Regions from separate parts of the Homo sapiens genome. Here regions 2, 3 and 4 are each linked to region 1. The links come from fine-mapping of genetic effects on gene expression. A gene starts in region 1. Each other region holds a variant in brackets. All regions are shown on one strand. Distances are from middle to middle.

Region 1 (2,656 bases):
AAAAATAATTAGGTATGGGGGAAAAATTGTAAAAGATTAAGAAAATTCTAAAGATAATCGTATCAAATTGGTTCTTAAATGCCTATATCCTTGTTTAACTTTAAATAAACTGATATTGGAAAATGTTAAGTCTGCTAAGATTAGGCCAAAACAGACACAGCCTAAAGAAAAGGCCCTGGGCTTACATCAAAAGATTGGCAAGTATAGAACTTGAGGTAAGTGGTGTAAAAAAAAAATTGGCAAGTGAATGTATACTTTCATGTTTTAAGTTAAAAACATACATCCATTTCTTCGTGATTCCTGTTTTAACCAGTTTTCTCAATTAACCAAGCAACTGCTGGGCCCAATCATGTCAGACTTTTCAGCTATCAAGTACGTATCTTTACCCAGTTGTCAACAGACACCTCAAACTCAACATGCCCAAAACTTTATTTCTCCCTCCAAATCCACTCTATTCATCTTTTTCCCAGATTACAAGCCTGGGAATCATTCTTAACTCCTCCGTGTCCCTCAGCCCACCCATTCTTATTCACCACGTCTTGGTAATGTTTCCTTCAAATATTTTAAAAATCCATTCCCTATATTTCCTATCCCTGTTACCACAGTGCTGGTTCTGAAGACAGGCATAGTTTAGTGGAAAGAATATGCGTTGAATCTTTACAAGTGTCCATCTTTTAACTGTGCTTCTGCTACTTACAAGCTGTTGAACAACATCTGTCAGACGCATGTACCGAGCGATATGAAGTGTGCATTGTGCTCGGAGAGTGAAGGGCGTTAAACGACAGCGAGGACGAGGGGCACGAGCCCGGCCTGCAGCACGGCCACAGCCTCGCGCTTACTCCTCCATCGCCTCCTGGAGTCCCCGAATTCATCCCGCATCCTGCTGGGAAACAGCGTCCATCCGACACAGCACCGCCCACAGCGGGCCCTCGGCGTGGCCCGCAGGCCCTTCGGACCGCCTGGGAGCGCGGCCACACGTGCCAGCAAGTGAGGGCAGCGACCTGGGACCGCCGCGTCTACTTACACCGCGACGACTCCGCGATCCACGGACACCGCCCGGCCCCCACGGCGGCCCTGCAGGGGAGAACTCGGGCCGCCTTCCCGAGTCCCGGCCGCCGCTGTTCGGCTCGCGCGGCTGCCCGCCGGGGACCCGAACGGAAGAAGGGTGGCGAGGCGGGAAAGGAAAAGGCCTGAGGGTCCAAGGCAGGAGGGGACACACGGAACACGCCGAGGGCCAACCACGCCGCCGCGCGCTCCCCGGCTAGGACCCACCTGCTGCAGGTACTGGTTAATGGTAATGTGCGCCATGGGAGCGCCGCCGAACGGAGAGCGCCACCCCCTACGCCTCAAGCGGGCCAGCTGGCGTCACTTCCGGCCCTCGGTCCGTCTGGGTCCTGGCGCCCCCGGCCCCGCCGCGGGTGCGCAGGTTGGTTCCGGAGGGAGAACCTGGGGACCGGCTCGGCGACGCGCTCGGGCTGAGGGGGCCCGGGGTCTTTCTGCCGGGGCCCCGTCCTCTCAGCCGGGACGCCAGCGGCTCTGATTGTGTGTTCGGGCCCGCCCGGGCTGAGGGGTTTGGGGTCCAGTGGCGAGGACAGCCCCACGGCTAAACTGCCTTTCACTGCGCTGACCCTTCGTCTGCCCCTTGTGAAAACCAGGCCGCGGAGGACCCTCCGCGCCTGGCTGGGCCAGGGCCTCGGGGCGCGCGCGCCCGAGGAGGGGGAGGGGGAGGGACATGGCGCGCGCTCCCGAGCTCTCATAAGGTGCCTCCGCCGCGCGCTCCCGAGCCTGCAGGAGTTAGGGCACGTCCCGGCGCGCACCCCTGAGCCCTCGAGGTGGTCTCACGCCCGGGGTGGGGGTGCCGAGCCCTCAGGAGGCGCGCGCCCCGGGGCCCTCAGGAGGGTGTCCCGGCTCCCGATCCCCTCAGGAGGGGTGCCCGCGGCACGCATCCCCGAGCCAGGAGGGGGTGCCCGGAGCCCTGGGGGCAGGGTCTCGGTGCGCCCCCCGGAGCCGGGGGTGAGGGTCCCGATCCCTCAGGACGGGAGTCCCGGCGCGCGCCCTCGAGCCAGGAGGGGGTGTCCGAATCTCTTAGGGGGAGTCCGATCCCTCAGGAGGGATTCCCGGCGCGCGTTCCTAAGCCCTCAGGAGTAGCCGGGCGCGGCGGCGGTTGGGCTCGGGCACGCGGGCGGGGCGGGGCGGGGCGCGCGAGGAGGACGGGGCGGAGGCCGCGCGGACCGGGGCGGGCGGAGCGGAGCTCGGCGGGCGGCGGCGCTCGGGGCGGGGCGCGGCGGTTCCGGCCCAGCCATGGCGGACGAGGCCCCGCGGAAGGGCAGCTTCTCGGCGCTCGTGGGCCGCACCAACGGCCTCACCAAGCCCGCGGCCCTGGCCGCCGCGCCCGCCAAGCCGGGGGGCGCGGGCGGCTCCAAGAAGCTGGTCATCAAGAACTTCCGAGGTGGGTGCGGCGGCCGGGTCGAGGGCCAGGCGCCCCGGGCGGGGACCCCACGAGACCCCGCCCGACTTGGGGGGAAGGCCCCGAGATCCGTGCGGGCCCCGGGAGCGGGGGCGCCGGGGCGCCGGCCGGGTCGGGGGTGGCTACGCGGGGCGCTTCGCGGCGCGCCCTGAGCCGCCCGCTCTCCCTCCGCCCTGCAGACAGACCTCG
Region 2 (2,683 bases), 53 kb before region 1:
TGCTAAAAACGCCAGGCTGTGGGCTGCGTCACCATGTGTCTCCTCTTTAATTTCTTCAGGAGCTCCAGGTGATAAGCTGCCACCTCCATCCACAATGTGGACATCAGAGGATGCAGCATGCTGTGGTTTGAATGTGTCCCTATAGTGCACGTGTTGGAAACTTAATCCCAAGGCAACAGTGTTGAGAGGTGGGACCTTTAAGACGCATTCATTGTCAGAGCCCACGTGAATGAATTGATACCACTATTGTAGGAGTGGGTTCGTTATTTTGGAATAAAAGGATGAGTTTGGCCCCCTTCCTCTCTCCCCTTTCTCTCTCTCTCTCTCTCTCTCTCTCTCTCTCTCACGCGCATCCACCTTCCACCATGGGATGACGCAGCAAGAAGGCCCTCGCCAGATGGGGGCCCCTGGACCTTTGATGTCCCAGCCTCCAGAACTGTAAGAAATAAATTTCTGTTCTTTATAAATTACCCAGTCTCAGATATCCTGTTACAGCACCACAAAGTGGACTAGACCACACTCTACTCTGTGAATCTAAGACGCACCATTATTGATGAACCTGAAAGAAAGAGCATATACCCAAATTAGCTGTGGGTCAGCTCAGCCTGGAGGCAAGAGGGGGAAGCTCAGATAATCTAAACCACAGGCCAGCCAGGAACCAGCTTTGCAATACATTTACACTATTCACATGGGCTCCCAAAACTCACACAAAAAAATGTATTTAAAGGGATTGCAAAGTGGCAGTGCCCCCAGGGGGCAACATAAAGCACAACCCCTTTCAGGAAGAACTCGGCCTTGTCCAGGCTGACATTAGAACATTGGCTGTAGGGAACAGGCCAATTCAGAGATGTTGAAATCTAAAACATAGGTCCCAGAGTTGATTGAACAGGTATTTAAATAGGGACTGCGGCAAGATCTAAGTATTCAATGACCAGGTTCTCCATAGGCTGCTCATTTCAGGTTCCACACAAAGTTGTGGGGTCAGTTGATTTAAGCTGGGGACCCCCACAGAGGACACCCCAACATCTGAAGGACACGACAAAGACCCCAAAGGAAGGAAGATTCTCCTCAGGTATACAGAAGGAAAGTAAACCAGTCAATGGAAAAAGTGTCCCAATGTTGGTTGGTTTGTTTTTCAGAACAGAAGAGGGTGACAGAAGAACGATTATTCATATGAGAGATGAGGAAGATGAG[T/C]AGAACGAGGTGAATCTTAATGTTTGGACAATTTATTATTGTAGAATTTTTGGTCCAAAGGTGGTATCTTTGAGAAGGCAGATGAGAAAATTAAATCACCACATACAACACGGTCAGTCCACGTACAACACAGTCAATCACAGCTGTGGCCTCGATGTTGATGCCTTCCTGTATTAGTCTGTTCTCATGTCACTGTGAAGAAATACTTGAGACTAGGTAATTTATAAAGAAAAGCGGTTTAATGAACTCACAGTTCCACATGGCTGGGGAGGCCTCAGGAAACATAATCATGGCAAGCAGGCACCTCTTCACAGGGTGGCAGGAGAGAGAAAATGTGTGTCAATCACAGGGGGAAGCCCCTTATAAAATCATTAGCTCTTGTGAGAATGCACTCACTATCACAAGAACCACCTCCATGATTCAATCACCTCCACCTGGTCCTGCCCTTGACCTGTGGGGATTATTACAATTCAAGGTGAGATTTGGTTGGGGACACAGAGCCAAACCATCCCCCAAAACTCACGTTGAAACCTAACCCCCTGTGCAATAGTACTAGGAGGTGGGGCCTCTGGGAGGCACTCTGCCTTCATGGATGGATGACTGCCCTCCCAAAAGAGGCTCCAGGGAGCACCCACATTCCTCCCTTCCACCATCCAAGGACACGTCTATGAATCATGGGCCGTCACCAGACACTGAGTCTACTGGAGCCTTGATCTTGGACTTCCCATCCTCCAGAACTGTGAGCACTACGTTTCTGTTTATCGTAAATTACCCACTCTAAGGTGTTTTGTTACAGCAGCCCCAACAGACTAAAATGGTCCATGAGGGAAGAGGTTGTAGCTCAGATACCCATGTCAGGCATATAGGATGTGCTTAATTAACACTTATTGATCGAATGTGTATGTCCCTGTCTGCCTTTCCATTTTTAGGCAGCTATTGATGGTTTTTAAACTATCCAGCAGAAGTATTTTTAATGTAAATTTCCATGTGGGAATACATTTTCACACAAAAAAAGGCACCTTTTCTTAAGTGAAGGCCACGTAGATTGCCAGGCTGGTGCAATTCACCCAAGAGCTATCCTATACAATCAACTTCTGGCTTTCAAATTATTTTAACTCACTCACTAAAGATAAACTTTATTTTCTTTTCCCAGCTTTTTAAAGCAAACTTCACAACTTCAGTGTATTTGCGGGCATGCCCTCTTAATCAAGGGTGTCAGCTTCTTAGTTTTCTTCTGTTCCCACTTTAACAAAATTGTATTTAGAATCCTTTCATTGAGTTTTGCCACCTTTGAGTGTCATTCAATCGAACAATATCTATATGCTGACAATGCTGTCATTTCATCTGTTACCACCTGAATCTCCACTGTGAGTCCCAGCTTCTCGGATGCCCACTCCTGTCTCCACCTGGACATCCCACAGACACCTCAAATTTGCCAAACCTCGCTTCCCTCTGCCCTCCTGGAGCTTGGCCGTCTCAGCACACGCAC
Region 3 (2,683 bases), 32 kb before region 1:
AGTCCAATATTTGAATCCATGCAAACACACTGATACATGCCCATGTGTACGCCCGTGGACTTGAATGCTGCCATGCTGGACACAGGCCTTGACTTTGCGTCTCCACCCAAATTCCATCTTGAATTGTAATCCCCACGTGTGGAGAAGTGATTGGATCACGGGGGCGGCTCCCCCACGCTGTTCTCGTGACAGTGAGGGCGTCTAACGAGAGCTGATGGTTTTAAAAGTGGCAGTTTTGCTCATGCTCACTTCCCCTTCCGCCATGATTGTAAGTTTCCTGAGGTCCCCCGAGTCATGTGGAACTGTGAGTCCATTAAACCTCTTTCCTTTACATATTACCCAGTCTCGGGCAGTTCTTTATAGCAGCGTGAGAACGAACTGACAGAGGCCTGAACACCAAGAGGTAAACGTAAGGACACCTACACTGAGGTTGTTTCTTTCATCGCTAAGAATAACCATCCAATTACCTTAAAGTATCAATCCTTGACTTTAGGTGTCACTATGGACGGTTCAATACGTTACCCAGAAATGTTGACAAACCTGAGCTTTCCACCGCTATTACATCCAGAATGAAATTCAGGTATGCTGGCAGAAATTCCAATATTCAAATTACTGCAAGAAAATCATTTAAGTCAAAAGTTGAAGGATGTTCAAGGCCCATGCAGAGCAGCAGGGAAGATCAGATTTCCGTACCCAACACTGCAAGAGAACGGGGCCCCACTGGACACATGGGTAGCTAGAAAACAGATGCGCGCCCAAAGCCTCCGCCGGCATGAGTTTGCTCCGTGTCTGCCCCACAGGACATAGGAGGCACTTGTCACGACTGCCAGCGCTGAGGACCTTGCTGCTGCTGGGGAGCAGCTACGTAGGTCAAGAGGATCCTTGGCATGAACTCCACAGGCACAGGCGCTTGCCTTCGTGCATTCATCTCTCGCGTGTACGTGTGGCAGTCCACGGCTGGAATCCGGGTGTGACTTAGGAGAGCAGGGCATAAAAGAGATCTGGCTTCCCTGGCTCTACTGGGATCTGCGCTCCCAGAATCCAGCTCCCTACGTGTGGAGAGAAACAGGGGAGCCCACCCACAGCCCTGCTGAGCTCCAGGTGAGAGCCCGGGCCAATACACGGGAATGAGTCACCTTCAAAGAGGCCCATTCGGGCCCCAGAAGAGCCCACAAGCTTCCCCGCCCAGCCCGGAAGAAACTGCAGACCTGCAGATGTAGGAGCGAGCTAAGGAGTGCTGCTGAAGCCCTGGGGCAGCTCCTGCATCCAGGGGAACCTGAGGAAGGAGCCACACAAAGTGAGTCCTGCGCCGCGCGGCCCGGAGAGAGAGAAAGAGGGATTCACACTTTGTAGAATAGCCTCTCCTTGAACAAGCAGCTTTCAAATGCAGTAACTTTGCAAAGATGAGCTCTTATAGTTTGTGTTCTTCTTTAGTAAATTTTTTATAAACGGGGAAATGTGCATAGTCTGAAAAATGGCAGTGCTGGGGACTAAACTGTGTCCCCCAAATTTCTTACATTGAAGTCCTAGCCCCAGTGTGAC[T/C]GTATCTGGAGGTAAGGTCTTCAGGGGGTAACTAAGGCTAAATGTGGTCATAAGGGTGAGGTCCTAACCCAACAGAACTGTGGCCTTATAAGAGGAAGAGAGCCGGGTGTGGTGGCACATGCCTGTCACCCCAGCACTTTGGGAGGCCGAGGTGGGGGAATTGCTTTAGCCCAGGCGTTCCAGACCAGCCTGTGCAATATTAGCAAGACGCTGTCTCTACAAAAAATAAAAAAATTAGTTGGGTGTGGTGGCATGCACCTGTGCTCCCAGCTACTTGGGAGGCTGAGGAGGGAAGATCACTTGAGTCTCGGAGGTCGAGGCTGCAGTAAGCACTGACTGCACTGCCGCACTCCAGCCTGGGTGACAGAGTGAGGTCCTGTCTCAAAAAAGGAGGGAGAGAGTCATCTCTATCTGTACCATCTCTAGCACAGCAAGAATACCACCTTATTCTTAAGTGTGCAACTCAGAAGAGAGCCCTCCCCAGAAGCCGACCGTGCTGGCAACCCCATCTCAGTCAGACCTCCAGCCTCTAGAACTGTGAGGAAATACATTCCTGTTGCTTAAGCTGCCTGTGGTATTCTGTGATGGCAGCCCCAACAGCCCAATGTGAGTGGCCCAACTTAGCGACTGTCAACCTCGCCGTGGTGCCGAAGGGACGCGCTCAGGGGCAGCCATGCCTCAGCGTCCACGCAGCCCTTCAGTTTCCACTCTCAGTGTAGCACTCGGTAAGCTACACGAGGTATTTACACTTTTATTTTTATTTATTTATTTTTTTGAGACAGAGTTTCGCTCTTGTTGCCCAGGCTGGAGTGCAATGGCATGATCTCGGCTCACTGCAACCTTTGCCTCCCGGGTTCAAGCGATTCTCCTGCCTCAGCCTCCTGAGTAGCTGGAATTACAGGTATGCGCCACCACGCCCGGCTAATTTTGTATTTTTAGTAGAGACGGGGTTTCTCCATGTTGGTCAGGCTGGTCTCCAACTCTCAATCTCAGGTGATCTGCCTGCCTTGGCCTCTGAAAGTGCTGGGATTACAGGCGTGAGCCACCACGCCCGGCATCTACACTTTATTATAAAATAAAATCGGCTTTGTGTTTGATTTTGCCTAAGAGTGGAGGCTTCTGAGTATGTTAAGGAAGGCTA
Region 4 (2,683 bases), 27 kb after region 1:
CTGTAAGATCATTTCTGAAATAATTAAAATAACTCAAATTTAAGCAAGATGATAAAAACATACATGAAAACTTAAAAATATAAATGTAAATGATAAAATTTTTCATTTGTGTGAAGCACTGCAAAAAATTTTCCCAAAAAAAGCTGTGCGAAAAAACATGTAGTAGTAATAGGAACCCAAAAAACTTAATCACCTTTCCAGATACCAGAGCAAAATCATAAAGGAACCTGCCCCATAGACTGTCACCCAAATGGTGCGTGCTACTGCCAGAATGGACCTTAGCCATTGGTTCCTTCATTCTGGCTTTGCAGAGGAAGTTTCATGTCAGATACTGAGCCCAGCTGCAGCTACCCCAGCAGAGCCTCAGGCCTTTCCCGCACTGTCTTGGGAAACATGGGCGTACTTTGAGGTCTCCTGCAACCGTGTTGTTTGGTGTCCCCCAAATGAACAACCACCTTGTTGACTTGCTTTTGCTGACCCAGCTGTGCGGGGCAGGGTTGCCATTTAGCACCTCATCCTCCTACCAAGTGAGGCTCAGCTCCCTGTGGGCCCTGGGGATGGGAGGAGGGTGTGCACAGACCCCGAAACTTGGTGGTGCACAGGGACGAAAGAGAAGTGCAGCCTGGGCCCTGTTGTAGGATGGATGTTAATATCAGCGTCCTTTCTCCATGTCCCCCACACACATTTCCGTCCTACCTCTCCCTCCCTGTTAATCTGTGTTAATATTTGGCTTGAATATGTATTCTGCTTTTTAAAAAAATTACATGTAAGGAAAACAAAATCTCAATTTCTTGGATAGTGTCGACATTCTTTTTGTTACTGATACATTTAATTGTTTTGTTTGTAAGGTTCCAGAATATCTTAACCATGTAAGTAAACGCTTAGAGGAAGAGGGAGACAGAGTAATCACTTACTTGGACCACAGCACACAGTAAGTACCGTTTGCTCGCTGAGCGTTCGTATCTTCACCATGGCTGGAAGGTTCTCCTGGCTGGTTATTGAAATAAAGGGTGTCTTTGTCAATTCATTCAGTACTAAGAGTGTTTTTGCACCTAGCATATTTTACTTTGTTATTTGTCATTATTTGGCATTCACAAATTACAGTTTTTACCCAGTGCCTTGTCATGAGTTACGTCTAAAGAGAGTAAATCTTGCTGAGATACTTGGCATCTTTGAGTTTTGAGACGGTCTATTTATGTTAATGGAGTATCACTGAATATTAGGTTATTTTGATTGTGCATTCTCTGTTACACATTTTATATCGCTTTAATTTTATTTATGGTGCTGTCACACAATTTTCTCTTTTCATCTTATGTTTTTTTCCTGCAAACCTGAGGTTGATGAGTAGCTAGGGAAACAAAAAGGGAGAGATTATGTGAGCGTGTGTGTCAGGCACAGTGTGTCCATATGATGGGAGGCAAGGACAGAGGCAGAG[G/A]GGACAGCAAGGGAGAGAAATGAAAATGATACAGTGTGCAGCTGGGCGCGGTGGCTCAGGCCTGTAATCCCAGCACTTTGGGAGGCTGAGGTGGGCAGATCACAAAGTCAGGAGATCGAGACCATCCTGACCAACATGGTGAAACCCCGTCTCTACTAACAATACAAAAAAATTAGCCGGGCGTGGTGGCGGGAACCTATAGTCCCAGCTACTTGGGAGGCTGAGGCAGGAGAATGGCATGAGCCCGGGAGGCAGAGCTTGCAGTGAGCCGAGATCACGCCACTGCACTCCAGCCTGGGCGACAGAGCGAGACTCCGTCTCAAAAAAAAAAAAAAAAGAAAATGATACAGTGTGCAGAACTGGACCCAGTAGGGAATGATAAAATGTACAGATGTGCAGAACAGGACTTGGTAGGACTCAGCAGAGAAAACAGGAGGAGAGATGAAAATGATATGGTGTGCAGAACTGGACTCAGTAAGGTGCGGAAAGGGGAAGGATTCTGACAGAATCCAGCACAAAAACAGAGAGGGTGCAGAAAAAGAGATTTGGTCACTTAGACGTGTGGAGTTGGAGGAGCCTGTGGGAAATCCAGGATCTCGAGGCAGGCCAGGGTGGCTCGGGGGCCATGTTGTGCTTCCTTCCAACTGGGAGCAGAAGAGCAGCCCCCGGGAGACTGGGAAGCAGCAGCCAGGGAAGTCCGGGGGAAATAGTGGAGAGAGCGGCAGCCACAGCGAAGCCCCACAACCAGGGTGTGCAGGTCACACACAGCTTCCCTGAGCCCTTTCTGCCTGTGTAGGAAGCAGAAGGCGGAATGTCGGCTCTGCCCTTCTCCGTAAGATGGTGCATTAAAACGTTCCTTATAAACTGGAAATGAAGGCTTGGGAAGATGGCTAAAATCAGCAATCCTTGGAATAACGCAGAAGCATCCCTGCTTCCCTGGGCCCGCCCGTGGGCCTGCTTGTGCTGTTCAGTAGGTGGTTTTTAGAAAGGGCTTCCTTCAGCGTCATTAGCAACAGGAGTCGTCGTCCGTTTGCATGAGGAAATGTTCTTAACCTTCCGTTTCTGATTGCCTCTAGACTGCATCTGTCATAGACAAATGCCCCCATCTTTTGCAGAGAACCAGTCTCTTCTTTAAACTTTACTTCTAACGCTTATTCTTTTTACCTTATATAGGAAACCACTGATTGCTTGTGTGGAGAAACAGCTATTAGGAGAACATTTAACAGCAATTCTGCAGAAAGGTAGATT

What was found. PIP is the estimated chance that this variant, and not a neighbour inherited with it, causes the effect.
Region 2: its variant is fine-mapped to the expression of PCID2 in whole blood (INTERVAL, PIP above 0.99).
Region 3: its variant is fine-mapped to the expression of PCID2 in whole blood (TOPMed, PIP above 0.99).
Region 4: its variant is fine-mapped to the expression of PCID2 in whole blood (TOPMed, PIP 0.95).

Annotation. Positions count from the first base shown.
Region 1 is chr13:113,207,327-113,209,982 of GRCh38, forward strand. PCID2 (PCI domain containing 2) reads right to left here and starts at 1,343. Exons shown (of 14, transcript NM_001127202.4): 1 at 1,273-1,343. The coding sequence starts at 1,308. CUL4A (cullin 4A) reads left to right here and starts at 2,287. Exons shown (of 20, transcript NM_001008895.4): 1 at 2,287-2,449; 2 at 2,647-2,656. The coding sequence starts at 2,302. RefSeq lists enhancers at 398-1,048, 1,049-1,698 and silencers at 1,233-1,522, 1,783-2,052, 2,153-2,482, 2,543-2,656.
Region 2 is chr13:113,154,678-113,157,360 of GRCh38, forward strand. LOC124903216 (a long non-coding RNA gene) reads left to right here. Exons shown (of 4, transcript XR_007063880.1): 1 at 1-188; 2 at 380-438; 3 at 1,140-1,203; 4 at 1,853-1,933. Among named protein-coding and RNA genes, the nearest start is that of F10-AS2, 2.0 kb to the left of the region's middle. The variant T/C (reference allele first, on the strand shown) is at 1,195.
Region 3 is chr13:113,174,838-113,177,520 of GRCh38, forward strand. It overlaps a transcript of PCID2 not described here. Among named protein-coding and RNA genes, the nearest start is that of PROZ, 18 kb to the left of the region's middle. The variant T/C (reference allele first, on the strand shown) is at 1,543.
Region 4 is chr13:113,234,215-113,236,897 of GRCh38, forward strand. It overlaps CUL4A (cullin 4A), which reads left to right. Exons shown (of 20, transcript NM_001008895.4): 8 at 849-931; 9 at 2,609-2,676. Among named protein-coding and RNA genes, the nearest start is that of CUL4A, 26 kb to the left of the region's middle. The variant G/A (reference allele first, on the strand shown) is at 1,436.